7 linked regions of the Homo sapiens genome follow. The protein of the gene in region 6 purifies or fractionates together with the protein of the main gene of each other region. This does not show direct contact. Each region holds a gene or a part of one and is shown on either strand. Other genes may lie near its edges. The genes, in order: FBXO11, GINS1, MCMBP, EMC8, NCBP3, MCM10 and MCM4.

Region 1 (4,259 bases), on a different chromosome or scaffold from region 6:
TCATCGTTTCTCCATTCTTGAATTTAAATTTTGATTCATTCTTGGTATGGCTAGGTTTTGTCATCCAGCCATTTTTTGTTTGTTTTTTTTAAAGAACGCCTTATGGATATTGTAGCTTGAATTCTTGCCATGCGAGAATCCCTATCCATTGCCTTTTAACTTAGCTGAGTTTCTTTCTTTCCCTCACGATTCTGTAGACATTTTTCTATTGTAGCATTGAGCATGGCTGAGAACTCTGAGATCACATTGGGTTTTTTTCTTTCTTCTTTGCTTGAAAGATTGCTCTTCTACCTCAGTATCCATATTTTGGCTTTTGCTGATGTATTGTTTTACTATTTTTCTGTTCCATATGTTCCTTTCTTTAGAAACTTAGCTATCTTTCTGGTTATTTATATTGCTATGTTCTGTTCTGTTTAGTGTTGTGTGAGTTCCTCAAATCTGTGTTCCTTACCATGTCTCCGTGGTTTTGTTTTTCTGCTGCTATTTTGCTTCCAGTGTGGGTGTTGCCTTTAATTTTTACATTTTTTTAATGAAATATTTCTAACGTACACTGAAGTAGAGAGAATAGTGTAATGACTCTCCAGGTACCTATTGTCTGCCTTCAACAACTATCATTTCATGGCCAATTTTGTTTAATGTATACCTCATACGTTTTACTACCTTTTTTACACTCTGGATTATTTTGAAGTAAATACCAGACTTCATCATCTCTTGTAAATATTTTACCATGTGTCTTTAAAAGATGGGTGTTTTTTTTTTCTTTCACATAACCACAGTGCTAATCCACTCCTCAATAATTAGGAATAATTCCTTAATATCATCAAATTTTCTCTTAATGTTCACAGTTCTCCAATTGTCTTTTGTTTGTTTAATACTCAGTTCAGTGCAGAGTTGTTACTTTTGTAAAATAAGATTAAAATGTCATAGCAGGCCAGGTGTGGTGGCTCATGCCTATAATCCTAGCACTTTGGGAGGCCGAGCAGGCAGATCACCTGAGGTCAGGAATTCGAGAACAGCCTGGCCAACATGGTGAAACCCTGTCTCTACTAGAAATACATAAATTAGCCGGGTGTGTTGGTGCACGCCTCAAGTCCCAGCTACTCGAGAGGCTAAGGCAAGAGAATCGCTTGAATCCAGGAGGCAGAGGTTGCAGTGAGCCGAGATCGCGCCACTGCACTCCAGCCTGGGCGACAGAGCAAGACTCTGTCTCAAAAAATAAATAAATAAATAAATAAAATGTCATAGCAGTGCCAAATAACTATAAAATTTTTTGAGGCCGGGTGCAGTGGGTCACGCCTGTAATCCTAACACTTTGGGAGGACAAGGTAGGCAGATCCCTTGAGCCCAGGAGTTCAAGACCAGCCTGGCCAACACTGCGAAACACTGCCTCGTGGTGGCGTGTGCCTGTAATCCCAGCCTCTCAGGAGGTTGAGGCATGAGAATCACTTGAAGTGGGGAGGTGGGAGGTGGAGGTTGCAGTGACCCAAGATCATGCCACTGCACTCCAGCCTGGGCGACAGAGGAGTGAGACTCTGTCAAAAAAATAAAAAAATTCATGGCATATTCATGCCATTAGATTTCATCACTTTAGTTAGAAGATAATAATAAGCTAAGCTTATTATAGCCTTTAGTTACTTGGGGACAACTACACTTCATTGAAAGTCTAAGGTACTAACATTGGTTAGTTCCCAGCACCCTCCTCTTTCTTACCCAGATTTCACAGTATTTGGTAAGTGTTTTTATAGATTAGAGTTGTGGAAGTTTATTTCTATGAAGATAGCATTTTTCTCTCTTTTTTAATCTGGAGAGTTTCTTGTGAAACTCTTGAATGCCTTTTATTTTGTCTTTTTTTTTTTTTTGAGACAAGAGTCTCACTCTGTCACCCAGGCTGGAGTGCAGTGGTGCAATCGCGGCTCACTGCAACCTCCACCTTCCAGGCTTCAAGCAATTCTTGTGTCTCAGTCTCCCGAGTAGGTGGGAGTACAGATGCCTGCCAGCACGCACAGCTAACTTTTGTGTTTTTAGTACAGACAGGGTTTTACCATGTTGGCCAGGCTGGTCTAGAACTCCTGACTTCAAGAGCTCCACCGCGCCTGGCCTACTTTGTCATATTTAATAAAGAATGTTTTACTTCAAAAAATTTATACATGTTGGAACTTTTGTGGTTTGCATTAAAAGACAAAGCAGAGGCTGGGCACAGTGGCTCACACCTGTAATCCCAGCACTTCGGGAGGTTGAGGCAGGAGGACTGCATGAACCCAGGAGTTCAAGATCAACCTGAGCAAGACAGACCCTATCTCTACTAAAGAAATATTCTAAAAATTAGCTGGGCATGGTGGCACACGCCTATAATCCTAGCTACTTGGAAGGCTGAGGCAAGAGGATTGATTGAGCCCAGAAGTTCAAGGTTGTAATGACCTGTGATAGCTCCAGCTTGGGTGACAGGGAGATTCCCGTCTTCTTAAAAAATTTTTTTCAGCCGGGCTTGGTAGCTCTGTAATCGCAGCACTTTGGGAGGCTGAGGCAGGTGGATCACTTGAGGCCAGGAGTTCGAGACCAGCCTGGCTAACTTGGCAAAACCCCGTCTCTACTAAAAATACAATAATTAGCTGGGCATGGTGGCACCCACCTGTAATCCCAGCTACTTTGGAGGCTGAGGCACGAAAATTGCTTGAACCTGGGATTTGGAGGTTGCAATGAACCAAGATCATACCACTGCGCTCCAGCCTAGGAGACAGTGAAACTCCACCTCAAAAAAAAAAAAAAATCTAATTTCTTACAGTTCTGTATTATTGATTTATTTTGTACTAGAGGTATTGCTTAACAAAATAGTTGCATTCTATTAAAATACGTCTTGAAGCAGGCCGGGTTCAGTGGCTCATGCCTATAATCCCAGCACTTCGGGAAGCCGAGGCGAGCAGATCACTTGAGGTCAGGAGTTCCAGACCATCCTGGCCAACATAGTGAAACCCCATCTCTACTAAAAATACAAAAATTAGCTGGGCGTGGTGGCTCACACCAAAAGTCCCAGCTCCTCGGGAGGCTGAGGCAGGAGAATCACTTGAACCCAGGAGGTAGAGGTTGCAGTGAGCCGAAAGTGCGCCACTGCGCTCCAGCCTGGGCGACAGACACTCTGTCTCAAAAACAAAAACAAACAAACAAAAAAATCTTGAAGCAAAATTACATTAACTGAATCCATAATAAAAATAAGTTTTCTTGCAAAATTATAAAACTATAAGTCAATCAATCTTTGTCATTTCTAAAGGTAGTAAAATCATTGTTGTGCCAATGTAGAGGCTTCTCATTTTAAGGTCGTTGAGAAAAGAAAACTTTTTGCTGCTTTATTTTCTTGAAAGTTACTCTGAAACAAAAGATACAGATTATAAACTCCATATTTGATGGAATTAGGTGACATATTTAATCCTTAACCTAATTTATTAATACAATGTGGTAAATGACTGCATGCCTGTGACCAGGGCAGCCAACCAGATTGGAGCAGGTTAAAGCTCCAATAAAGCTGTTCAGAAAGATAAATTGGTAAACCTAATGTAAATGTAAATGTATTAAGAGGTGATTTATAGGAGATGATGCAGGAGAATCGCTTGAACTTGGGAGGCAGAGGTTGCAGTGAGCCAAGATTGGGCCACTGCACTCCATCCTGGGCAACAGAGTGAGACTCTGTGTCAAAAAAATAAATAAAAAGAAGAGGTGATTTGGACAACTAGCAACAAGTTTAGGATAGAGTTGTCACTAGAAAGCTAAGCAAAGGAGAAAAAAATCCAAAAAATTGTGCAGCAAAGAAGTCATATTTTATGGCTCAACTCTGAATAGCACACTAATCTAACCAAAATTAAGGTTAAACTACACTGAAAGGATACAATGTGTGAGTATATATTGTGGGGGATAGAGAGGTAGGAGAGCTAAATTCTGCTGTCCCATAATAGAAGTCAGTGGATAATACCTAAAACTGGAAAGTGAAGACTAAGTACAGTGAGTTACTTAATAAAATAGATGTGAATCAAAAGAATCAGCTAAAAGAATTAAAAGTGGGGCCCTCTGGATAAAGGAAATGAGGGAGAGGGCTGCTATTTGCCTTAAAAAACTTGTGGATCAGCTGGGCGCGGTGGCTCACACCTGTAATCCCAGCACTTTGGGAGGCCGAGGCGGGTGGATCACGAGGTTAGGAGATCGAGACCATCCTGGCTGACATGGTGAAACCCTGTCTCTACTAAAAATACAAAAAATTAGCTGGGCATGGT
Region 2 (4,259 bases), on a different chromosome or scaffold from region 6:
ACGCTACCATATTCCCATCTGAGTGCTCTGATCCGAAGCAAGCGGTCATACCTAGGACATCAAGAAGGTATTGGGTGGCATAAGAATAAACGGGGGATCACGTGTGGACTTCATTTGGCCCCTGATGCAAACACACCAGCTCTAAACAGACATCTTAGGGAAAACAAGAAGAACATGAACACAGTCTGAGAGTCGACCTGAAGGCACTGTCCACTCCTCCACGTGTGACAGCAGCACAGTAGTCCTGGGAAAAAGGTCCCTAAGGTCCTTATTTCTTTCTTTCCCCCGCCTTTTTTTGTTTGAGACAGAGTTTTGCTCTTGTCACCCAGCCTGGAGTGCAATGGCACGATCTCCGTTCACTACAACCTCTGGCTCCCAGATTCAAGCAATTCTCCTGCCTCAGCCTCCCAAGTAGCTGAGATTAGGCACCCGCTACCACTCCCAGCTAATTTTTGTATTTTTAGTAGAGACAGGGTTTCACCATGTTGGCCAGGCTGGTCTCGAACTCCTGATCCCAGATGATCCACCCGCCTTGGCCTCCAAAATTGCTGGGATTATAGGCATGAGCCACTGTGCCTGGCCAAAGGTCCTTATTTCTAAGACAAAGAAAAAATAGTAAGAACACTACCGTATTCAGTAGTGAAAGACCGTGATGCACTTAAATAGTGTGGCACCAACAAGTGAAACACGATGAAAAAAATATGGCAAAATAATAAAAATTGTTAAAACCATATGATAGCTCCACTGGGGTTCATTATAGTATTATTCTCCCTACTTTTAAAAGTGTTGTGATTTTTCATAATAAAAAATTAAAAAAATGAAAACACAGAGGAAAAATTTAGAATGCTTACAAAGAGAGAGAGATCTAAGATTTCATGTTACCCATTTGAGATGGTCAACTGGGAAGCCACACAGAAAATCCTGCCACCCCAAGCAAAAACTGAGAAGCTTACAGGTATGCTACAGTGCAGCGTCGATTTCTTAACAGAGAACAGTGTCGAAATTTGATAGTTGGTATCAAATCACTTCGTCCACCTGACTTTGCTTCATTCCTGATAGGAGCATTTAAAAAGAAAAAAAATATGTACTTTTCAGGATAAGTAAAATTTTCAAAGCCAACTAACAACTGAGTTACATGCTTGTTTTTAATCCATTTGTGATTAGCAGTTAACCTAAGCAAATAATAACTATTTGTACATCAGAGCTTTTATTAATATGTTAAAAAGCCAAAACCTAAACAACTTGCCTAAGATCATGCTACCAGATACATTTTGTTTAGGCATTTGGTACTTTGCATTTTTGCACACTGATTAATCTCTATTCTTTCTAAAAGACACTGTGTTATTCACTTTTCAGGATTCCATTATCACGCTGAGATAAGAGACAAAGCTAACATGATGGACATGAGGTTATGGTCTTACGTCATGTCGCTATTCTACATAGTACCTCCCTTCCAGTGGAGCTTCCAAATCCTCATTATAACAAAGTGAGGTAAAATGGAGTCAAAATGGTCTTTCACTCATCTTACAAATATCTGTTGATCTCCAAATACGTGTACGTACTATACTTCAGTATTTCTCACACTGAAAATTTTGGTTTTACCCTATAAAAAGTACATGTAACTTTTGAATGAATAAGAATCTACTTTGGAGTTTTTAAGCAACCATATGCATATAAAAAGAATTCATTCATGTAGTGCCTGCCTCTATGCCAGGCACTGTGCTAGGCCCTGATAATACAGGCAAAATACATGTCCCATCCTGTCATGTCTTCTAGGGCTGTTCTATATACTTCTGCCACCCTATGAAAGTCTGATGAAACTAGGAAGGTGGAATAAAGAATTTTGGATCATGAATTTGCGAATGGCATAAACACAGAGAATACAAGAAAATCATTCCCTTACTGAACCAAGGCCTATAGGGTCTCCTCCAAAACATTTATAACCTTCTCACTTTCTACCAAGTCTGGGTCACCTCTCTAGTAACCTGGTGACCAGCTTCCCCCACCTCTCAGCCCCTCCACACAGCAACCAGCATTATCTTTTAAGACACAAACACACCACCACCTGTCCACACTTACACCTCATCTGGTGTCATCCTTTGCCACTTGCCAAACTCCAGCCACATAGGTCTTCTTTAAGTGTCAGTTTCTTGAGTGCCCCATTCTCTTCCATGATTCAGGGGCTTTTGCATATGCTGTTCCCTCCACCTAGAATGTTCTATGCCCACAGTCACTGCCTCCCTAAGACTTGCATCTCCTGCAGGCCTCAGCTGAAATGTCTCCTCTTTGGAGAGAAGTTCCCTGATTCCTCAATTTAAGCTAGACCTTCTATTCATTTTTCTTTCTCCTTGCACTCTTCTGATTTCCTTCATAGCATGAATCCCAATTTGGCATATCTATATTTCATGTCTGTCTTCTGCACTAGACAGTGAGCGCCAGGGACAGGCATCTTTTTTTTTTTTTTTTTTTTGAGATGGAGTTTCGCTATTGTTGCCCAAGCTGGAGTGCAATGACGCGATCTCGACTCACCACAACCTCCGCCTCCCAGGTTCAAGCGATTCTCCTGCCTCAACCTCCGGAGTAGCTGGGATTACAGGCATGCGCCACCACGCATGGCTAATTTTGTATTTTTCGTAGACAGGGTTTCACCATGTTGGTCAGGCTGGTCTCGAGCTCCTGACCTCAGATGATCCACCCGCCTCGGCCTCCCAAAGTGCTGGGACTACAGGCATGGGCCACACTGTGCCCAGCCCGGGAAAGCCATCTTGACTGTTGTTTACCACTGAAATAGCACAGCCACTTATTGATACATATTTGTTTAGTACATATTTGAGTAAATCAATGAATGGCTTAGGGACTTGAGTTCAGGACTTTAAATCTGCCTTATATTTACTGCAAATCTGTTGAGGTTCACTTCCTCAGTCCACCTGTAAAGATTTTTCTGTATCTCTCCTTATACACAGGAGTTGGAAATGCTCCTATCATTTTATGTGCCTCACAAATCTTACCAGCCATAACACTGATTTCTATATTCAAGTAACTGATAAAAACACTGTAGCGAACAAGCCCAAAGAGGAAACCTCATGTCACAGACAGTTGAGACCCTGAATACTTCAACTTTGATCCAGTACTTGACTCCCTTTGGTGTCGCACAGGAACATACGAAGTTTGTCATACGCCCAAATTCTCCACTGTGCCAGCTACCATGCTCAGTTCTAAAGAGTCAATAAATCTAGTCACCTCTCTGGACCTACTACACTGAAACCTTTTATAGCTAGTTCTCAGAGAACTCCACTCAAACTATCAGAAATCACTGCTGCTCCTATTTATATCCATTTAATAAACTGCCTATTCTTCCTTTAACAAACTCACTAAGGCAACTGTTGATAAAAATATAAACAGTGGGAACCATGTATTTCACTTTGTTAGGTTTTTATTTTTATTTATTATTTTTAAAGATGGAGATCTCCTTCTGTCACCCAGGCTAGGGTGCAGTAACGTGATCATAGCTCACTGCAGCCTCAAACCCCTGCACTCAAGCAAGCCTCTCACCTTACCCTGCTGAGTAGCTAAGACTCCAGGTGTGTGCCACCACACCCAGCTAATTTTTATTTTTTTAATAGAGACAGAGTCCTGCTATATGTCCAGGCTCCTGGCCTCAACTGATCCTTTTGCCTTGGCCTCCCAAAGCACAGGGATTTATAGCCATGAGCCACCGTGTCCAGCCTATTTTTATTTTTTATTTTAGGGTATGTCATTTATTTTAGGTCCACTCTAATTCCTTTCAACTCTTATCAGCCAAACAACAGATATTTATTAAGCAGTGATCAGCACAAATTTCTTCAGACTTTTGCTAATTTGTACAGCTAGAGCAGATAATTTTACAGATAATTTTTAAAAATCGCATCCCAAAACTAATGCAAGGTTATCTGATTTCAACATCTTTTTTTTTTTTTTTTTTTTTTTGGAGACAGAGTCTTGCCCTATCGCCAGGCTGGAGTGAAGTGGTGCAATCTCAGCTCACTGCAACCTCCACCTCCCGGGTACAAACAGTTCTCCTGCCTCAGCCTCCTGAGTAGCTGGGATTACAGGCACCCACTACCACACCCGGTTAATTTTTGTATTTTTAGTAGAGACAAGGTTTCACCATGTTGGCCAAGCTGATCTCAAACTCCTGACCTCGTAATCCGCCCGCCTCAGCCTCCCAAAGTGCTGGGATTACAGGCGTGAGCCACCGCGCCCGGCCAATTTCAACATCT
Region 3 (4,259 bases), about 110 Mb from region 6:
ATACAACTACGCAAAAGAACCCAACACTGTAGGCCCATAAAGACTGCTCCAACCATTCGCTGACACAATAAAACTTTTCACCAAAGAACCCTTACGACCCTCAACATCTAATACTACCCTTTATATTACTGCTCCATTATACTAATACTACCCTTTATATTATTGCTCCATTATATAATATATAAAATATATAATATATGATATATATTAAATGAGACATTATATATTATATATGATATATATTATATAAGATATATTATATAAGATATATATCTGTTCCATTGTACTACTTTCAGAATACTATGGCAAAACATAGTTGGTGTATATAATTAGTTTATAACATATGCTTTAATCAAATTCATATGCCAAGCCTTTATCTTACGTTGTTAAATGTGAATTTGTCCATAGATACTCTTCTAAAAGTTATTCCTAGATCTGGCTTTAGTGCGAAGGAAGTCAGAAATGGAAGAGAAACATCTATGTACGTACCTGGGGTATCCAGCTGCCCCTGTTCCAGGAGAGTCTCATCGATTACAAGGGAAGTATTGCTGGGCAGCTGGAGGAGCCCACTGACCAAGCGATTGGCTGTGTAGTCTTTGTGGGGAATGAATTTCAAATGGTTCATGTTCTCTATAGTCATCTGCAGACGAAAAGACTGCAAAGAGAAATTTTTTAGTGAACAAGAATTTAAGTTTCCCTGTTTTAAGAAAATATGTACTTGGAATTAAACATTGTGTTTCATATGGAAAAAGTGATCTTATAAATTTCTAAGGGAGTAGTGATATGGTTTCTTGAACTCCAGAAGCAAAAATAGTATCTAGATCTTACATTTGAATTTCATCCATTTTATGAGCTACTTTATTCTCAAATGTCTTGTTCAATATTCTTGAAAATCAATTTTAATTTAACCAATGAAACAAATGGTAGATAACTGACATATAAATATTAAATACCCCAAAACCTAACCTCTTTCACCTAACACAAGCTAGCTAGCAAAAAGAAAATGTTAATTTTACTCTTCAAGACAGGGAGAGAAAAGCTTAATTTTCCTCTATATTCTTTGAGTTAAAATTGTATTCATTTATCATAGACATTTTTGAACAAACTTTTCAGAGAAAAATCAAGGAGCAGAGCACACTGAGCTGTGGATGGACCTGCAGCTCTCAGGAGGTGCCTCCAGGACGCGAGCACCTTCTCACTCAGTGTTTAACGAGTAAGCGAACCATCTATGCTCCTCCTCCAGCTCTTGAGCCACCATTCCCAACACCCTCTGTGCTCTGCCTTATACACCAATCCATTCTTCCATCCCTCCAGCCTCAAACAATGTGGCAGGGATGGAGAAGAGGGTATGGTGGGGGAAGGCTGTCAAGGAAGAGGTAAGATATATTGCGAAAATTTAGAGGAGTTTTGTGTATTACCTCAGTGATTCTAAGAAAACGGGGAGCTTAGGGGTGCTTAAATGACCTACCATGTATTAATTTATTTGTTGGTCTTCTACCTAAACTCTGTGAGGGCAAAGGATCTGTTTCAATAATTCTCAAAATGTGGTCCCGAGAACCCCCAGGGAATTGCTTAAACCCTTTTACAGGGTCAATCAGGTCAAAATCATGCATGGATAAAAGATCCTTTCAATGTGCGAGACTAATGAATTTTACCATAGCAGACTATGGAAAGTTTACGAATAGGATTTCAGATTCCACACTTAACTATCTTTAAGAAAATCTCATGTGGACAGTTTTGGTCTAGTATCAAAGACCACCACCCAGTTATCTGCAAAGGCTATCGAAACCATCCTTCCTTTACCATCTACTTTTCCATCTGTGTGAGGCCAGCTTTCCTTCATATACTTCAACCAAAACCTGAGACTACAATAGACTGAAGGCAGAAGCAGATACAAGCATCCATTGTCTCCTATTAATCCAGACATTGAAGAGATTTGCAAGAATGTAAAACAATGTCACCTTTATCACTAATCATTTTTGGCTTGGGAAAAGTTGTTTTTATAAAAATATTTATATGTAATTTTTTATTTTTAATAGGTGTATTTACTTTATCTTCTAGTTTGGTAAATTAATGATAAATATAATCATAACGTGAAAAACAGCTCTTTGAGTATGAACACATTTTTCAGAGTGTAAAGTGAGTCTAAGGAGACTGAGAACTGCTGGTATATTCCAGTCCACTTCTGCTTCTTGAGGGCCTGGACGAGTGTTAGCACTGAGACACTGAATACATTCGGTTCAATAAAGATCTAGTGCACCCTCTTCAATTTCCAAAGAAGTGATCAGTATTTTCAGTCACACAACTAATCAGAAGCAATTCCCCTGTTCCCAAGATCCTACCACCACGCAAATACTGCATTCCAGATACCCTGGCAAATAAAGTGAGCTCAACTTTCCAAACAGGAATTAAAATTGAGGCAATGGAGATAAAGAACTTTATTACCTCAACTAAAAGAATTATGCTCCTACAATTTAGAGTTTATTTAGATTTAAGACTTTAGTGTACAAAAAGGATACCAAATTGGACAAATTGGTATCAAGAGAGTGTAATTTTAAGGGAGTTACTACAATTGTTTTGTTAGACTTACAGAAATTTGTGCTTAGGCAAAAAGACAAAAAAAAGTGAAATGTTTAGGGGAACGTACATTTTAAATTATGTAATTTGGCAGGCTTTGTTTCCCCTTAAATAAGATCTATTAAAATCTCTAAGTTAAATATTTGAAGTGAATGAAAGACAGTTAGATGGATTTTTTAAGTGTGCTTAGGTTTATAATACATATTTATATTCATCTTACTGCTGGAACAAGATGTTGAATAATTCGATACAAGTGTTCTGTGAAGGTACTATTCCGTGGGCAACCACTCAAGTTAACTGTAAATTTTCCTAGTGGAAGGACATCTCTTCTTGTATATCTAGAAAAGAAAGAAATCAATCAATAAGATGCTGAAGTGACTTCCTGATTTCTATCAAATAGCGAAGAATAGAAAAATTAGCTTAATATTGTCATTAAAAATAAACCAGAATATTCTGACCAGTTATTTTATCAGAATAACAGCAATAAAAGTAATAGCCAATATTTGTACGTAAGTGCTGCTGGTCACGTGCCAAAGACCGTTCTGAGTATGTAAATGCTTCCTCATTTAACCCCTAACCATTCAGCGGTAGGTGCTGTTGTCTTTGCTTCACAGATGAGAAATCCGAGGCACAGAGATGATAATAAGCAACATGTTCATCTAAATGGAAGCTGACAGAGCTGGGATATGAATCCGGGTAGTTTGGTTCCAGAGCCTGTGCTCTCAACCATTATGTACTACTGTCACAGACTGATTTGAGAAAAGATAAGATTTACAGCACAAAGATGTTTCCTGCAACTTTATAATAGAGAAAAGCTAGGAAAAGCTAACATTTAGGGAAATGGTTACAGTATGGTACAACTGCATAGTGAAATACTTTGCAGCCACTACAAAGTTCATGAAGCATTATGATGGGAAAATGTTTAATATATATCAACTGCTGAAAACAAGACACGCATCTGTGCTTAGAGTGTAACTAAGACCTATGCAAGGATGTATACATATGTAAACAAAAACCAATGAACATGTACCTAAAGGTTAACGGAGGTTCTAAGTGGTGAAATTACAGATGATGTGCATTTTCCTCCTTATGTTCTTGGAACTTGTCAAAGGCCCACACTAGTTTTAAAATGAGAAACAAAGAAATACAGTGGAGTCAAGGGATGCGGTGCTAGTGTCAATGTCCACGTTAAACGTGCACATGACGTGGGCGCCTTGGGATGTATAAACAGAGCGTTCAGAATGCAAAAGGGATAAAACAGCTCATTTTACTCATCAGCCAGGTCCTTTATCTCAGGGGTCCCCAACGCCCAGGCCGTGGACCAGTACTGGTTCATGGCCTGTTAGGAACCGGGCCACAACATAGGAGGTGAGGGGTGGATGAGTGGGCATTACCGCCTGAGTTCCGCCTCCTGTCAGATCAGCAGTGGCATCAGACTCTCACAGGAGCGCGAACCCTATTGTGAACTGCACATCTGTGTGTTCCCTATGAGAATCTAACTAATGCCTGATGTTCTGAGGTGGAACGGTTTCATACTGAAACCATCCCCACTCCGGTCCATGGAAAAATGGTCTTCCATGAAATGGGTCCTTGGTGCCTAAAAGGTTGGGGACCACTGCTTTATCTGATTTTGGCTCTAAAATTTAAGGGGACATAATCAAAATGCTAAATGTGAACTGTGA
Region 4 (3,500 bases), on a different chromosome or scaffold from region 6:
AAACAAAAGCATTGAACCGGTTCCCTCTAGCTGCTGTCCAGCTTCCCTCCTCCCTTCCATGACTGTTTCTTCAACTTCTTTAACAAGCCGCTAGTCTTGCTCCATGTCCTCACCACAGCTCTGTGCAATCTGCCATCTAACCCATTCCCTTGCAGAGCAGCACTCCGGAAGTCTCCTGACCACTGCCTGATGGCCCCAAGACTGCTACCCCCTCAAAAGCCTCCCAGCGGGAACCCACCACTCTCAGGCAGGCCAGTCCATTTCCAGCCTCTCCGACCTGAGGCCACCTTTCCCTCTGCTCTTCCCCACCCTGCAGGCCACAGGTCCTTTCTCTGCCCTCCTTTCCTGCATTCTCCCTGTCATTTATTTCCTTCAGTCTCTCACCTTAGGCAGGGGCTTCTAAAACTGCTTCCTAACCGGTCTCATAATTTCTACGGTCACTCGCTCGCTCTCTTTTTTAAAGAGACAGGGTCGGCTGGGTGCAGTGGCTCACGCCTGTAATCCCTGCACTTTCGGAGGCCGAGGCAGGTGGATCACCTGATGAGGTCAGGAGTTCGAGACCAGCCTGGCCAACATGGTGAAACCCTGTCTCTACTAAAAATATAAAAACTAGCTGGGTGTGGTGATGCACATCTGTAGACCCAGCTACTCCGGAGGCTGAGGCAGGAGAATCGCTTGAACCCGGGAGGCGGGGGTGGCAGTGAGCTGAGATCATGCCACTGTACTCCAGCCTGGGCAACAGTGAGACTCCACGTCAAAAAAAAAAGAGACAGAGTCTCGCTTCGTTGCCCAGGCTGGAGCATGGTGGCTATTCACAGGTGTGATCATGGCCACAAACTCCGGGTCTCAATCAATCCTTCCTGCTCAGCCTCACAAGCAGCTGGGACCACAGGCACGTGCTACGAAGCTCAGCTTAGGCTCTTCTTATCCGATGTAACCTGAAAATTCTCCTGAACTAAATTTTCCTAAAACAGAACTTCCATCACGTCCCCTGGTGCTCACAGCCCCACAGACTACTGCTCACCACTGCCTGCAAGATGAAGGCTGCTATTCTCAGGCTGGCAGAGGCAGGCCTTCGTTACGGTGAACTGAGCTACCGTGTGCAGCCACAGGGGCAATGCTGTGTCTTCAATGTCAGGAAATCTGCCTACATGTCATCTGCCTCACATGCCCGTCTTGTTTCACTCACACTGTCCCGTCTGGCCCTCCACACCAAGGCCTCCTTACTGAATTGCTTCCCCTCTTTCAGTGCCCAGAAGACATGCCACCCTCACCACAAAGCCCTGCTAAACCCTGGATGAGACCCCCTGCCCTGCTGGAGTTCTGAGGATTTATTTCTAAGAGGCTCTAACACAGAGTCCATGGCACGTGCTGCTTTCCTTCTGTGCATCCTGTCTGCCCTGCACAATCAAGGCTTTCAGCTTTTTGTGGCAGGGACCAAGCCATCCATCTTTCTTTTTTTTTCTTTTTTTGAGATGGAGTCTCACTCTGTCGCCTAGGCTGGAGTGCAGTGGCGCGATCTCGGCTCACTGCAAGCTCTGCCTCCCGGGTTCACGCCATTCTCCTGCCTCAGCCTCCCAAGTAGCTGGGACTACAGGCGCCCGCCACCACGCCCAGCTAATTTTTTGTATTTTTAGTAGAGATGGGGTTTCACCGTGTTAGCCAGGATGGTCTCGATCTCCTGACCTCGTGATCTGCCCGCGATGGCCTCCCAAAGTGCTGGGAATATAGGCGTGAGCCACCGCGCCTGGCCCCATCTTTCTTTTAACAGCCATAAAAATACATGCATTATTGTGAGTTATTTAACAAAGCACACTATATACAATTACAATCCTTCCCTTGTGATTAGGCTAAAAAAAATTAATAATGTTTTTAAAAAACAAATTATTTTATATGATTATTGTATTTTCGTTTTCAAAATTGACAAAGTGATGTACTGATTATAAATCTGCAGTATTAAGAAAAATATGACTTAAAAATGTGACTGTGTTAAGAAAAATATGACTTAAGAGGGAAGGGGAGGTTTTCAGGTAGAAGCCAATCGTACTGAAGAAAGCAGTGCGATGGTGGCTCCTAGCGCAGAGGGAAGGCAGTGCTTCACTGCACTGACCAGGACTCGGTGGGCGCCAGGTCCCCACAGCACTAACGGCAAGTGGTGAAGAGTGGGTACAGAGCCCTCAGGAGGCCTGCCCATGTACCCACCTCTGCCTGCTCCTGCATTTGCTGAGGAACTTGGAAAGCAAAAGGCAGGGCCGCTTGCCATGAAGAGCTTGCAAAGCCCTTACCCTCCTACTTAACACTGATCATGCTGGTTGTTGATTTTTATTGGGGAGAGGGTAAGGAAACACTCATTAAAAAGAAAAACTACCATTGCAGATGCTCAAGAACTCTTAACATCTGTCTTTCTATTCACTGATTTTTGAGATGGGGTCTTGCTCTGTTGCCCAGGCTGGAGTACAGTGGCGAGATCATGGCTCACTGCAGCCCCAACTGCCCAGGCTCAAGTGATCTCCCACCCCAGCCTCCCTTGTAGCTGGGACCACAGGCGTAGGCCACCATGTCCAGCTAATTTTTGTATTTTTTTGTAGAGATGAGGTCTTGCTATGTTGCCCAGACTGGTCTTGAACACCTGGCTCAAGAAATCCTCCTGCCTTGGCCTCTGAAAGTGCTGGGATTACAGGTGTGATCCAACATGGCTGGCCTAAAATTTATTATTTTAAAAGAAGTCTAAAAATTTGTAGTTGGCCGGGTGTGGTGGCTCATGCCTGTAATCCCAGCACTTTGGGAGGTTAAGGTGGGTGGATCACTTGAGGTCAGCAGTTCGAGACCAGCCTGGCCAACACGGTGAAACCCCGTCTCTACTAAAAATACAAAAATTAGCCAGGTGTGGTGGCAGGTGCCTGTAATTCCAGCTACTCAGGAGCCTGAGACAGCAGAATACTTTGAACCCAGGAGGTGGAGGTTGCATTGAGGCGAGATCGTGCCACTGCACTCCAGCCTGGGTGACAGAGTGAGACTCTGTCTGCTCTGCCACCGCCCCGCCAAAAAAAAAATGTGTAGTTAATGAACTGTCAAAGTATTTGAAACAGCTGCCAACTTTGCATTTCTCTGTCTTAGGCACTGAATCTCCAATACTGATCCACTTGATCCTGAATGAAGACTGCCACGCTGTGGTTCCTGCTAGTCAGGAACTCCTTGTTCCTAGGAAGAGCCAGCTGCCAACTGAAACTGCAGGCACCCTGAAGGCAGACCACTCTGCTCACCCTCAACAGCACCATGTCGGGCCAGCGTGTAGGTGCCATCTTACAATGTGTATCTAAAAGCTTCCTCCTGAGTGTCTGCCTCAGGCCAGGGCTCTCTGCCGGGCACCGAAACCTACTCATATCAAATGCTAACTATGAAGCAAAACACTGGCCAACAATGAATCATATAATAAAACTTGATGGAATGACCTAAAGTTTAGGAAATTCATAAAAGTTATAAACACTACGTTAGAACAG
Region 5 (4,259 bases), on a different chromosome or scaffold from region 6:
ATCCTAACACTTTGGGAGACTGAGGCAGGAGGACTGCTTTAGCCCAGGAGTTGGTGACCAGCCTGGGCAACATAGGGAGACCCTGTCTCTACAAAATAAAAAAAAAATTAGCTGGGCATGGTGGCATATGCCTGAGGGCCCAGCTGAGGGGGAGGATGGCGTGAGCCTGGGGAGTCGAGGCTGCGGTGAGCTGTGATCATTCTACTGCACTCCGGCCTGGGCAACAGAGCAAGACACTGTCACCAACAAAAAAAAAAAAAAAAGGAAAAAAGAACCTGCAGATGTCAGGCCGACTTTTATTATAGGTTTTTCCTCAATTGCTGTCTGAATTTCTCACCCTTCCCCTTTGTGTTAGGACACGAGCAGAAGATATGAAAACAAGGCTGGCAGCTTCATCACTGGAATTGATGTCACCTCCAAGGTAAGACAGGCTATGATTTATTTATTCAGCTTGATAAGCAAGTGAACTTAATGAATTTGATCCCTAGGACATAACAGTAAATATTTCCTCTTTTATTTTGTTGCTGGATTTAAATTTTTTTTCTAAAAAAAATTGTGTTATTGGCCAGGCACGCTGGCTCATGCCTGTAATCCTAGCATTTTGAGAGGCCAAGCAAGTGGATCGTTTAAGCCCAGGAGTTCGAGACCAGCCTGGGCAACATAGTGAGACCCGTCTCTACGAAAGATACAAAAATTAGTCGGGTGTGGTAGCACAGGTCTGTAGTCCCAACTACTCAAGAGGCTGAGGTGGGAGGATCGCTGGAGCCTGAGAGGTTGAGGCTGCACTGAGCTGAAATCGTGCCACTGCACTCCAGTGGGGGCAACAAAAAAAAATTTTGTGTTATACAACGATGTCTTCATGCATCCTGAAACGGTACAGGCAGCATTTGTGTGTTCTTACAGCCATGAAAGGATAAAATCACTCTACTTAGATACCTGTGTTGAACCGTTTCCAAGAAAATGTCCAAGACGGGGGATGCTTTTTTAAATGGTATGTCCATTTCTAAAAAAATGTGTACTGTTTCCACTTGAAATGAAACAAAACATGAAAAGTGCCTGGCAGATGGTAGGCCCCCCATATTTAGGTGGAGTCTCGCTCCGTTGCCCAGGCTGGAGTGCAGTGGTGCGATCTCGGCTCACTGCAGCCTCCACCTCCTGGGTTCCAGCGATTCTTCTGCCTCAGCCTCCTGAGTAGGTAGGACTACAGGCGCCCGCCACCACGCCTGGCTAATTTTTGTAATTTTAGTAGAGACAGGGTTTCATTGTATTGGTCAGGCTGGTCTTGAATTCCTGACTTCAGGTGATCCACCTGCCTCAGCCTCCCGAAGTGCTGGGATTCCAGGTGTAAGCCACCGTGTCGGCATAATAGGCCCTTAATAAGACTATTGCCTTGTATCTGATGATTGCTATTACCAGATTACCACCTTCATTGTAACACCTCATAGAGTCAAGCCTATTATTTTCCTTATATGTAGTCAATACATGTAAGTTGCTTTAATCAGTGATGTTCCGTTTTAGACATTTTTTCTGATTTTAATGTTTACAGTTAAGTTTGGAACAGAATTTTGTATTACATTTCTGAATAATAGTATATATTGCTGTATTGAATACATAAAAGCAAAAATAAAAATATATTTCGTGCCTTCCTTTTTATAGTGTTTTTTTTTTTTTTTTGAGACAGAGTCTCACTCTGTCACCCAGGCTGGAGTTCAGGGGTGCGATCACGGCTCACTGCAACCTCTGCCTCCTGGATTCAATTGATCCCTCTGCCTCAGCCTCCCGAGTAGCTGGGACTACAGGTGGATGCTATCATGCCCAGCTAACCTTTTTATGGTTTATCTGTGTCTCTTGTGTTTCCAATCACTTAAAGGCCCCCCATCCCCGCAAAAAAAAAAAAAAAAAAAGAGAGAGAATTGGTCATCTTTTAGACAAGAAAAGAGAATAAAGTGAAAATCTTTTCTTACTGTAATTGAAAAAGTAAACTATTCATAATCTTACACTGTTTGCCATTATATGACACAGGTATATGGGAAAAGGGTGATAGTCTCAGAGTTAGTACTTTGTTTCTAAAGGAAGGTAAATTGTTGTTTGTACTAGGAAGACTTCAGTGAAGAAAATGAGCGTTAACTATTGGGAAAGAACAGAAGTGTTGCAACTTTACCAATCCCCACAAGCTCTCTGTAGTCAGACCTTCAATTAGTGTGGCAAAGTCAATATACAATTAGTGAAGGGGACTGGGCGCGGTGGCTCACATCTGTAATCCTGGCACTTTGGGAGGCCGAGGCAGGCAGATCACGAGGTCAAGAGATCGAGACCATCCTGGCCAACATGGTGAAACCCCGTCTCTACTAAAAATACAAAAATTAGCTGGGCGTGGTGGTGTGCACCTGCAGTCCCAGCTACTCAGGAGGCTAAGGCAGGAGAATCTCTTGAACCCGGGAGGCGGAGGTTGCTGTGAGCTGAGATCGTGGCAGCCTGGCGACAGAGTGAGAGTCCGTCTCAAAAACAAAAACAAACAAAACCAATTAGTGAAGGGTTCCTAAGAGCCATCAGAAACCCACAGTTGGACCTGGGTTTATTTTAGCTCTTAGAAGAAACTTACAAAGCTGATTATTTTTTCAGTAAAGTGTCAATGGTTCTTATCACTTAGAGATGAAAACTGGTGATTCCGTGGACACGAGGCTGGAAGAGGAGGGAGAGTTTCTTTGCTTCGGTGTTATTTTTAAACAGACTAGCTTTAGGGAGTGGACTGCTCAGGCAGTTATAATGTGGAAGAGCGTGATAGGTGTGATTACCATTGCTCAGACAATGTGAAGTGGTTGTAGGTGGGCTCCTAGAAATAGCACTGGAATCAGATCTGCTTGCTTAATAGCTGAAGTATCTCCAGCAAACCTTTTTGCTTTTTTGTGCCTCCATTTCTGCACCTGGAAAATTGGGATGTTGAAATTGTTTAGTTGTAATTTGTTGGCATAATTGATAATAACAAATGAAGTGTCATATAACTTTATAAACTTTAAAGGACTATTCATTCAGTCAGCAGATACTCACTGAGTTCCTACTATGTCCCAGGCACAGTGATAGGCTGTGTTATGTCGGAGATGGTTGCAAATTACAGCGATATTAACATATCCCCCCAGTCATTGAGTGTGAATATCCAGGTCTCTGCCAGACTGATTCAAGGTGTAGTGTTGCTTATTTCTTCTTTTTTAGTTCAGGTTTGTCACTGATGCATCATGATGCATGTGTGATTTAACTCGCCTTCTCCATATTTTACTACTTTCACTTTTTCTGTACTTTCTAGGAAGCAATTGAAAAGAAAGAGCAGCGAGCCAAGCGCTTCCATTTTCGATCGGAAGTAAATCTTGCCCAAAGAAATGTAGCCTTGGACCGAGACATGATGAAGAAAGGTACAGGGTGTTTTGTGGGAAATTTGTCCACATTTCCCCAGAGAGTGCCTTTTCCCTGCCATCACCTCATGCTTCTGGCCTTGCCTTGCGTGTCCACTCCTTATCCAAGCACTCTTGTGAGAAGGGACCTGTGAAGTCTCCATTTCTGAGGTCACCTGTTTAAAGTTCAGATGCTGTCAGCTGGCTCAGATGTTAGAGCTGGGAAATAAGAGATTGTCTTTTCTGAGGAGGCCCAGAAAAAGTTACCAGTTAGTGGCAGAGCTGAGATTCGAACCTGTGCTTCTAAGGACCCTTACTCATTTTCTCCTTTTATCGTAGAGGTGTTAACTTTTCTTTGCCTTTAAACGTAGTGAAAGTGTATCACAGTGAGACCTTCTTTTCGGGGAGTTAGAGCAATTTTGAGATTGGTGGGGAAAAGCCATTAACACTTTTGTTGATAATCTGAATCTATTGGCCAGGTGTGGTGGCTCATGCCTGTAATCCCAGCACTTTGGGAGGCCAAGGCAGGTGGATCACTTGAGGTCAGGAGTTTGAGACCAACCTGGCCAACATGGTGAAACCCCATCTCTACTAAAACTACAAAAATCAGCTGGGAGTGATGGCTGGCGCCTGTAATCTCAGCTACTCGGGAGGCTGAGGCGTGAGAATCGCTTGAACCTGGGAGGCAGAGGTTGCCGTGATCCGAGATTGCACCACTGCACTCCAGCCTGGGCGACAGAGCGAGACTCTGTCTTAAAAAAAAAAATTCTGAATCTATTGATAATCTGAATATCTGATATATGTAAACCACTCAGTAACATCCTGTTGTCAGAGAAAGCTAAACTAATCCTGCCCTGAGTTTTAAGCCTGCGC
Region 6 (4,259 bases):
TTTACGTATGACTAAAATTACAAGTGCAGAGTTTAGAAAGTGGTATGTCATATGACCTCAAACCATCTGAATGTGAATCCTCTAAAGCTGGTGTTGACCTGGCACAGGAATACCCCAGAAGAGCCTGTCTTGCTCTGAGGAGTTCAAGGAACTGATGGACCTGCCGACGTGTGGAGCCAGGAACTTAAAACAACATTTAGCCAAAGCCACAGCTTCAGGTACCATCAGCTGCATGGCCACACGTGTGTCCCTGTGTTCCCTCAGCCTCCCAGGGCACCCCCTCAGTCTGGGCTTCTGTTTCAGGGATTATGGGGAGCCCAAAACCAGCCATCAAGTCCATCTCGGCCTCAGCACTCTTGAAGCAACAGAAGCAGCGGATGTTGGAGATGAGGAGAAGGAAATCAGAAGAAATACAGAAGCGGTAAGAGGAGCAGATTTAATATTCCCCGCTTGGGTCATCCATCTCAGGCGTCCTCAGAACGTCTTCATCGATTTCCAGAATGTGACTTCAGGTTTCGGTTGGCTGCGTTTTAACTCTGAAAGTTTAAAATAGTTTTCCCATAACCTGAATAGCATTTAAGGCTGTATTATTTCTTACACTGGTGACTCCCAACACCAAATGGTACAGGTTAGAGTCGTTATCACCATGGAAAAGGGAAAGGAGTGAAGTGTATGTAAAGAGGGTTTTTGTGAAGGGGGAGAGCGTAGGTTCACATGCTGGCTGTCATTTTCTCTCTCTCTCTCTTTTTTTTTTCTGAGACGGGTTTTCACTCTGTCACCCCAGCTGAAGTGCAATGCTGCAGTGTCGGCTCACTGCAACCTCCATGTCCCAGGCTCAAATGATCCTCCTGCCTTGGCCTCCCAAGTAGTTGGGACTACAGGCATGTGCCACTATGCTTGGCTAATTTTTGTATTTTTTTATAGAGACTGGGTTTTGCCATATTGCCCAAGCTGGTCTCAAATTCCTGGACGCAAGCCTGGATTTGCCTGGCTGCCATTTCTGGGTTTTGCCGCAATTCAGTTTTTTATGACAGGCAGAGCCAGTGAGTAGAATACAGTTCTTTGGATAAAGGACAAAACTGAAGCACTAAAAATGGAGAGTCATTTTAGAGGCAAAAGCAAGTGGAAATGTGTTACTTGGCTTCAGCCAATAATTAAAAAAAAAAAAAATCAAGTGGAAATGCATAGGGTAGGTGGACAAATGAATGATTCCTGAACTCAGGTCACCTGAATACTAATGAGAGCTGCGGTTCACAGGCACTTCATACGTACTCCATAAACACAGTATCTGAGCCTCCGGAGGCTTCTCAGCCTTGTTTTACTAATAGTGTGCCTGGAGATCAGAGAGCTAGTTTATGGTGGGGCCGAGTTTTGGGCTCACACATGTTGTGCTCTGGTGCTGAACCTTTTGCCATCCCGAATCTGGGCTGCTGAAAGGCAACCACATCCATGAAAGGGAGTCAATGATAAGACAAGAGGAAATTCTTTGGGAAAGTAAGAGAATGGGTTTGGTCTCAGGCAGATTAGTTTGAAGTGCCGGTGGGATATCTATAGAGCTATTCATCTTGAGCCTACAGATGACATAAATTATATACGTGGACACAGAAATATGTATGGAGTTGGGGGCCTCGTGGGAAATAGAGAATGCCCATCAGCTTGAAGGCATTGCGTAATGAAAATTTTCAGAATTTTGTTGGCCAAGGAAACCTTATCTTTGCGTAGGATTTGATAGGCAGTTTGCAAACACAGCCTAGAGCTTGCAAGAGTGGCTGTGCGGTTGGGAAGAGTACTGCTCTGGGATGGCCTGGCTCTAATCCTGAGTCTGGCCCTTGTGAGTAATGTGATCCTAGGCCTCAGTTTCTTCATCGATCAAATGAGAAGTTTGGACTAGATGATTTCTGGGGTTTGTTATTTGTTTTTAAATATCTCTTATGAGGCTGGCTTGGTGGCTTATGTCTGTAATCCTAGCACTTTGGGAGGCCGAGGCAGGCAGATCGCCTGAGCCCAGGAGTTTGAGACCAACCTGAGCAAAATGGCGAAATCCTGTCTCTACAAACAGTACAAAGATTAGCTGGGCATGGTGGTGCACACTGTGGACCCAGCTACTCGGGAGGCTGAGGTGGGAGGATCACCTGAGCCTGGGAGGCAGAGGTGGCAGCGAGCCGCAATCGTGCCAACGCACTCTAGTCTGGGTGACAAAGCAAGACCCTGTCTCCAAAAACAAAAGTAAAATAGCTCTTAAAACTATTTTTTGCCAGGCATGATAGCTCACGCCTATAATCCCAACACTTGGGAGGCTGAGGCACGAGAATCACTTGAACCTGGGAGGCAGAGGTTGCAGTGAGCCAAGATCATGCCACTGCACTCCAGCCTGGGTGACACAGCGAGACTCTGTCTCAAAAAAATCAAAAAAAAGAAAGGGGATGTAAAATAATCGCTGCAAGTTACAGTGTTTTTCATTAATGACTTCCAAATGTCTCACATGTATTGTCTCTTCCCAGTAGCATAAACAAAGATGCAGGGAGGTGCAATGAGTTCCTACAGGCCCTAGAGCTGACGGTAGGGGTGGGAATACAGTTCACACCGCGTCTTCAGCTGTGTTCCTTGTGGATGACATCCACTGGACAGCCAATTGATAAAAACAGTTATCAGTTCTAAAGTGTTAGGACAATTACAGCTTATTCAAAGAAAACTCAATTAAGGAGGAGTTAGTAAAGCTAGTATTGTTCTTATCGTGTGCAAATTTGAATTACCAGCCTAGAAGGGGACATTATTTTGCTAACAACTAGCTCCCAACTGGTGGCCTGCCTGCCGCCTCCCAGTCCACTTTGAGTTCTAGAGTTTTTATTTTCGTAAACCCTGTTTGCGTATTTTGACTGTATGTTCTTTAAAGATTTCTGCAGAGCTCAAGTGAAGTTGAGAGCCCAGCTGTGCCATCTTCATCAAGACAGCCCCCTGCTCAGCCTCCACGGACAGGATCCGAGTTCCCCAGGCTGGAGGGAGCCCCGGCCACAATGACGCCCAAGCTGGGGCGAGGTGTCTTGGAAGGAGATGATGTTCTCTTTTATGATGAGTCACCACCACCAAGACCAAAACTGAGTGCTTTAGCAGAAGCCAAAAAGGTAACTGGCATCTCTTCTCTTTAGCACTTGAGTTTGCATTCTGTAGAGCAGAGCTGGAGGAAAGACAGACACCTAATAGCTCTTTATTGATCGTGATCATTAGAGTCAGTGTAATTTGAAAACATGGTAGTGTCAACATAATACTAAAAGAAAGTTAGATCTGTTATCTCAACACTTTTTCTTGTCAGGCTACAAGAGGTAGCCTAGAGGAAGATAGTGTTTTATAACCAGAGGCATTGACAGTAGGAAAACAATGCTTGGAATTGTTGAGGTGAGACTGTAAAATGGTGGTTTAAGGAATCCTTTTTTTACGTTTATTTATTTATTTATTTATTTATTTATTTATTTATTTATTTTTTGAGAAGGAGTCTCACTCTGTCACCCAGACTGGAGTGCAGTGGCGCAATCTCGGCTCACTGCAACCTCCTCCTCCCAGATTCAAGCGATTGTCCTGCTTCAGCCTCCCGAGTACCTGGGACTACAGGCGCCTACCACCACGCCCGGCTAATTTTTAGTAGAGACATGGTTTCACCATGTTGGCCAGGCTGGTCTCGAACTCCTGACCTCAAATGATCTGTCCACCTCGGCCTCCCAAAGTACTAGGATTATAGGTGTGAGCCACCATGCCTGGCGGTTTTATTTTTTATTTGTTGAGACAGACTATCCCCCTGTCACCCATGCTAGAGTGCAGTGGTGCAATTATGGTTCACTGCAGCCTCAACCTCCCAGGATCGATTCATCCACCTGCCTCAGCCTCCCAAGTAGTAGCTGGGACTGCAGGCACATGCCACCACGCCTTGGCTAATTTTTGTATTTTTTGTAGAGATGGGGGCCTCCCTTTGCTGCCCAAGCTGGTCTTGCACTCCTGGACTCAAGCAGTCCCACCTCAGCCTCCCAAAGTGCTGGGACTACAGGCATGAGCCACTGTGCCTAACCAAGAATCCTTTAAAAGAAATCTTACACAAAAGTCCAGTCCCATGACAGGTGAAAGCTGAGTTGCTGCGGCTGAAGTAGGGGTAGGGCACCCAGAGCCCCACCTGCCCACTTCCTGAGTGCCCCAATCGAGCCTCTCTCTTCCCTTAAGTTAGCAGCTGCAGCCAAATGAAGGGCAAAGCTTGCTGTATGCCAAAACCTTAC
Region 7 (4,161 bases), on a different chromosome or scaffold from region 6:
CCTGTCTTTCAAGGGTCCACATATTTTAAACACGTCCATGTTCACGGTGGAGAAGGCGACTCACCTTTGCAATGGACAGAGTCTGCTGTTCCATGACTTCATGCAATACCGATCTTGTACTTTCATTCATCTTGTCGAACTCATCGATACAGCAGATGCCGTTGTCACTCAGGACAAGAGCACCTGTCTGCAGGACCAGCTGCCTTGTCTCAGGGTCTTTCATTACGTACGCAGTGAGGCCAACTGCACTGGAGCCCTTCCCAGACGTGTACTGGCCCCTGGGGACGAGGTTGTACACGTACTGCAGCAGCTGGGACTTGCTGGTACCAGGGTCGCCACACAGCAAGATGTTGATCTCAGCCCGAAATTTGCCCCTTCCAGTGTGACTAAAATCCTTCCTTGTCCCGCCAAAGAGCTGAAGCAAAATTCCCTAAATAATCAGAGACATGTCTAAACATTCATTTTCTGCACAGTTAACTGAGATGTAGTTTAAACTTTAGAGGTACTTTTCTCTCTTATAAAGAACTACAATTAAGAAATCACAGGAAGGTATAAAAAGGCTCGTGAAAGTGCTTGATATGCTTTAAGTTATCACTGACCAGTTCATCAGCACCTATCATTACACCAGAATGGTGGCCATGCAAGTCCCTATTCTGACACTGTGTGGCCTCTTCTGTTTAGAAACCTAAGTTTAGACCAGAGATGAGGATAGACAATGCTATGATTCTTCTCAACCAATGGCAAGTCAGGTTGCCAGCACTTGCTCTAACAGGCCACAACTCTGTCCTTTATGGCGGATGGCTCGAGTGGCGGAGTGGATGTTTATACTATTTGATCCCAAAGAATTGTAAATCCCAACCCCTAGTTTAAAATCCACTGTTACCTTCTTTATATCTTCATGTTCATAAATGCTTGGAGCCAAGGCTGAAGCAAGCCTCTCATAAATGTCTGGTTTCCTGGAAAGTTCCTTAAGCAATTCCACACGTTTCTCTGAAAAAAGTTTCTGTTCTGCTTCTTCATCAAGGCCATGCAGACGTTTTGCATCCGTTTTCCGATAATGAATGACATCAATGTGGGTTTTGTAGACAGACTTCACATTACTCACTCTTGGATTGACTCGAATAGGCACAGCTCGATAGATGCCTGAGGGCACAACCAGGAGATGCACTTTTACCTTCCCATATCTTCCTCCGAGTGGCTCAGCAACCAGCGTAGGCAACAGGTGCACTTCAGAGCGAGGCACCACGTCGGGCTGGCCCTGGAAAGGGTGAGCTCCACCGTCTCTTAAATGACCCTCCCAAGCCCAGGACTCAGGCCCACATTGCAAAGCTCCCGCTTGCTATGAGCAAGCAGGGAAATAGCAGCAGGAAACGGACAAGCTCGAAAGAACCAAGGTGGCTCATGTCTGTAATCCTAGCACTTTGGGAGGCTGAGGCAGGCGGATCACCTGAGGTTGGGAGTTCGAGACCACCCTAATCAACAAGGAGAACCCTGTCTCTACTAAAAATACAAAAATTAGCCGGGCGTGGTGGCACATGCCTGTAATCCCAGCTACTCGGGAGGCTGAGGCAGGAGAATGGCTTGAACCTGGGAGGCGGAGGTTGCGGTGAGCCAAGATGGTGCCATTGGACTCCAGCCTGGGTGACGAGAGCAAAACTCCGTCTCAAAAACAAAACAAAACAAAATGAAACAAAACAAAACAAAACAAAACAAAAGAGAAAGAACCCAGGTTTCTGCAAATGATAGACCCGAGGACGTGTTCACCTGGGCCCACTAGTCAGCAGTGCTCCAGGGCAACTGTAGCTACGTGAGCATGCCCACGGGCACAGTCACCCTGAGGGTGAAATGGAGCTGCTGTGCTTCTAGCTCAATGCTGGGTTCGTGGTTGTTTTTAATAAGCAGTATTTTTACTTCCCTAAGTTGAGTGTACAGAATCTGCCTAGCACTTACTTGACTGCAACAAAATGCTAAAATCCTCCAGTCATTAAAACTAGACTAGGTCCCCCCAACCTACCCACCACCCCCGACAAAAGCATGCAAATCATGCATTCTTCTGGAAGCCAGGCTCCTCACATACAGAGGTCTGATCTGATGTTCGTCTTTTCTGGATTTCAAACCAGAAGGCTTTAACTCCAGGCTGATTCCTGCAGCTTTTGGAGAAAGCCTGGCCTTTCCCCGTTACAGCTATCTCAACGCAATGGCACAGAGCACTGTCCTTGTTTATTCAGTGGGTCAGTGTAATTCTTGTTTAACACAACAAACCAGTTTACACACATTCTTAGAATACACACTATTCTTCACTCCAATATAGGCTAGGGATGGAAGATTATGTTTAAAGTGGCCCGGAATGATTTATCTCACAGAGCAGCATTGATACTTATTTCACATCTACACAGCACTTTCCACAGCCCCTTGGCCCCAAACACTCTCACACATGTATCATCACATTAACTCCACTTTGTAGGTGAGGAAACAAAAATATTGGACTAAATACTTTATCAAAGGTTTCAGGGTAGCAGGACTGGAAATGCGCACGTCACTCACTAAAAACTACGCATTCTTTCAAATTCTCCATGACTTCAAGTACTTTTACGACGGAAGATTGCCAGTGATAACTGCGGGACTTCACACTGGGGAAGAAACAGGGTGAGCACTGCCTCACTGAAGACAAGAGCCGATGCGTGGTGTGCCCCAGGCCCTCCGCTCAGGAGCAGATTCAGGCACTCCGCGACCGTCGCCACCTTGCCCATCAATGAAGAACCGTGCTGCCATCAACACTCCCTTGCCCCCAACCAAAATCCATTGTGACTCTACAGCATCAAAAGGAGGACTGCCACACTCATATGGTGCTGTGCAAAGAGCACTCTTGTGGCAGCAAGAGAAGGAGACCTGGGTCCTGGGTTCTGATTTACCGTGGCATCTGAGCTACTGCTGTCTATGCATCCCTGAACCTCAGCTTCTACACATGGAAACAAGTCACTGACTCATTTTTCTCTGTAACAAACAAATGTTAACCCTTGGCTATACATTTGGGAAATTAAGTAAAAATTACTTAAAACTCCAGCATTGGTGAGTAATACTTCTCTGAGCTGATGGCATAACTCAAAACTTTACCCATACAAGCCTGTCTGAGGCTGCTCTCTCATGATGCCAACAGTACTGACTTGAGACACACACAGCTCCAGGATACTGAGGTATCAAGAGGCGAGTGACCACACGAACCATGAGCTCCAACATTCAAGTTTGGGAAGAACTGAACAATTTCATACTGCTGGGCCATGGTACTCAGTTAAAAAGGTGGCAGATAAAGCAGGGATATACCCCACAGTCTCAAAGACAAGCAGTGACAACTGGAGGTAGAACTGGACCTGTGACCAAGTCCAATGACTCACTAAAGCACAGCATTGAAAGCAAGCCAGACATGCTCAAGTGCTGGTGCAAACCTACACTCTTACCTGTAACATTCACTCTGTCCCCAGGCTGGACCTTGTCAACGAGATCATTGTGAGCAAACAGGATAACTGTGTGTGGTGTCTGCCCTGCAGGCATGTCTTCCGGAGACTCCTGAAGCTTGATCTGAAGGTCAGCAAACAGAGAACATGTGGGCCACAAAGAGAGGGCAGGGGGACAAAATCTGCATGTCTTTGTACTGCTTTTGCCATATAAGGCTGCAGTGCATATCCCCACATAAATGATTGTCCATGTTTCTCATTATTTCCTTAGAAATTACTTCTTCTAAAGAAGTTGCTGCAACAGACAGCAACAAAACAGGGGAAGGAATGTAGGGAGCTGCGGTGGGGGAAGCTGAGATGCTTTTCATAAAGCAGGGTCGAGGAAGGCCTTTCCAAACCAGGTACCCTCTGAGAGGCCTAAGGATGCTGGGCTTTTCTCTAAGCCACTTTGGGGGCCTGCATGATTCTGAGAATAGGAGGCCATGTGCTCCTGCGGAGCAGGGTGCCTGCCTTTCTGTCTCCAGCTCTCCATCCCATGCAACATTAAAGAAACCATGCACACGCAGTCACAGAAAAACTCAAATCCTGTCCTCCCACATCTTTACAGTCACAATCACGGTAAATAAGCAATTTTCTACCTTCCCCTCACTTTTTTCTGTCATTTTAATAACTTCATCTTAAAATTTCATGAATATAGAGAAAAAAGACC

Evidence for each region.
Region 1: the proteins of MCM10 (region 6) and FBXO11 purify together in Homo sapiens (co-immunoprecipitation; one large-scale study listed by IntAct). This does not show direct contact.
Region 2: the proteins of MCM10 (region 6) and GINS1 purify together in Homo sapiens (co-immunoprecipitation; one study listed by IntAct). This does not show direct contact.
Region 3: the proteins of MCM10 (region 6) and MCMBP purify together in Homo sapiens (affinity purification with mass spectrometry; 3 studies listed by BioGRID and IntAct, with this or other methods). This does not show direct contact.
Region 4: the proteins of MCM10 (region 6) and EMC8 purify together in Homo sapiens (affinity purification with mass spectrometry; one large-scale study listed by BioGRID and IntAct). This does not show direct contact.
Region 5: the proteins of MCM10 (region 6) and NCBP3 purify together in Homo sapiens (pull-down; one large-scale study listed by IntAct). This does not show direct contact.
Region 7: the proteins of MCM10 (region 6) and MCM4 purify together in Homo sapiens (affinity purification with mass spectrometry; 3 studies listed by BioGRID and IntAct, with this or other methods). This does not show direct contact.

What each region holds. Positions count from the first base shown.
Region 1 is NC_000002.12:47,826,210-47,830,468, reverse strand, and holds part of FBXO11 (F-box only protein 11), read left to right. Parts: intron 1-4,259. UniProt on the Homo sapiens protein: Substrate recognition component of a SCF (SKP1-CUL1-F-box protein) E3 ubiquitin-protein ligase complex which mediates the ubiquitination and subsequent proteasomal degradation of target proteins, such as DTL/CDT2, BCL6, SNAI1 and PRDM1/BLIMP1.
Region 2 is NC_000020.11:25,413,897-25,418,155, reverse strand, and holds part of GINS1 (DNA replication complex GINS protein PSF1), read right to left. Parts: intron 1,053-4,259; coding exon 954-1,052; intron 52-953; coding exon 1-51. UniProt on the Homo sapiens protein: Required for correct functioning of the GINS complex, a complex that plays an essential role in the initiation of DNA replication, and progression of DNA replication forks.
Region 3 is NC_000010.11:119,838,046-119,842,304, forward strand, and holds part of MCMBP (mini-chromosome maintenance complex-binding protein), read right to left. Parts: intron 2,916-4,259; coding exon 2,798-2,915; intron 656-2,797; coding exon 490-655; intron 1-489. UniProt on the Homo sapiens protein: Associated component of the MCM complex that acts as a regulator of DNA replication.
Region 4 is NC_000016.10:85,782,545-85,786,044, forward strand, and holds part of EMC8 (ER membrane protein complex subunit 8), read right to left. Parts: intron 1-3,500. UniProt on the Homo sapiens protein: Part of the endoplasmic reticulum membrane protein complex (EMC) that enables the energy-independent insertion into endoplasmic reticulum membranes of newly synthesized membrane proteins.
Region 5 is NC_000017.11:3,839,248-3,843,506, reverse strand, and holds part of NCBP3 (nuclear cap-binding protein subunit 3), read left to right. Parts: intron 1-355; coding exon 356-421; intron 422-3,301; coding exon 3,302-3,407; intron 3,408-4,259. UniProt on the Homo sapiens protein: Associates with NCBP1/CBP80 to form an alternative cap-binding complex (CBC) which plays a key role in mRNA export. NCBP3 serves as adapter protein linking the capped RNAs (m7GpppG-capped RNA) to NCBP1/CBP80.
Region 6 is NC_000010.11:13,192,148-13,196,406, forward strand, and holds part of MCM10 (protein MCM10 homolog), read left to right. Parts: intron 1-107; coding exon 108-218; intron 219-303; coding exon 304-421; intron 422-2,893; coding exon 2,894-3,122; intron 3,123-4,259. UniProt on the Homo sapiens protein: Acts as a replication initiation factor that brings together the MCM2-7 helicase and the DNA polymerase alpha/primase complex in order to initiate DNA replication. Additionally, plays a role in preventing DNA damage during replication.
Region 7 is NC_000008.11:47,966,780-47,970,940, reverse strand, and holds part of MCM4 (DNA replication licensing factor MCM4), read right to left. Parts: intron 3,577-4,161; coding exon 3,456-3,576; intron 1,144-3,455; coding exon 884-1,143; intron 431-883; coding exon 65-430; intron 1-64. UniProt on the Homo sapiens protein: Acts as a component of the MCM2-7 complex (MCM complex) which is the replicative helicase essential for 'once per cell cycle' DNA replication initiation and elongation in eukaryotic cells.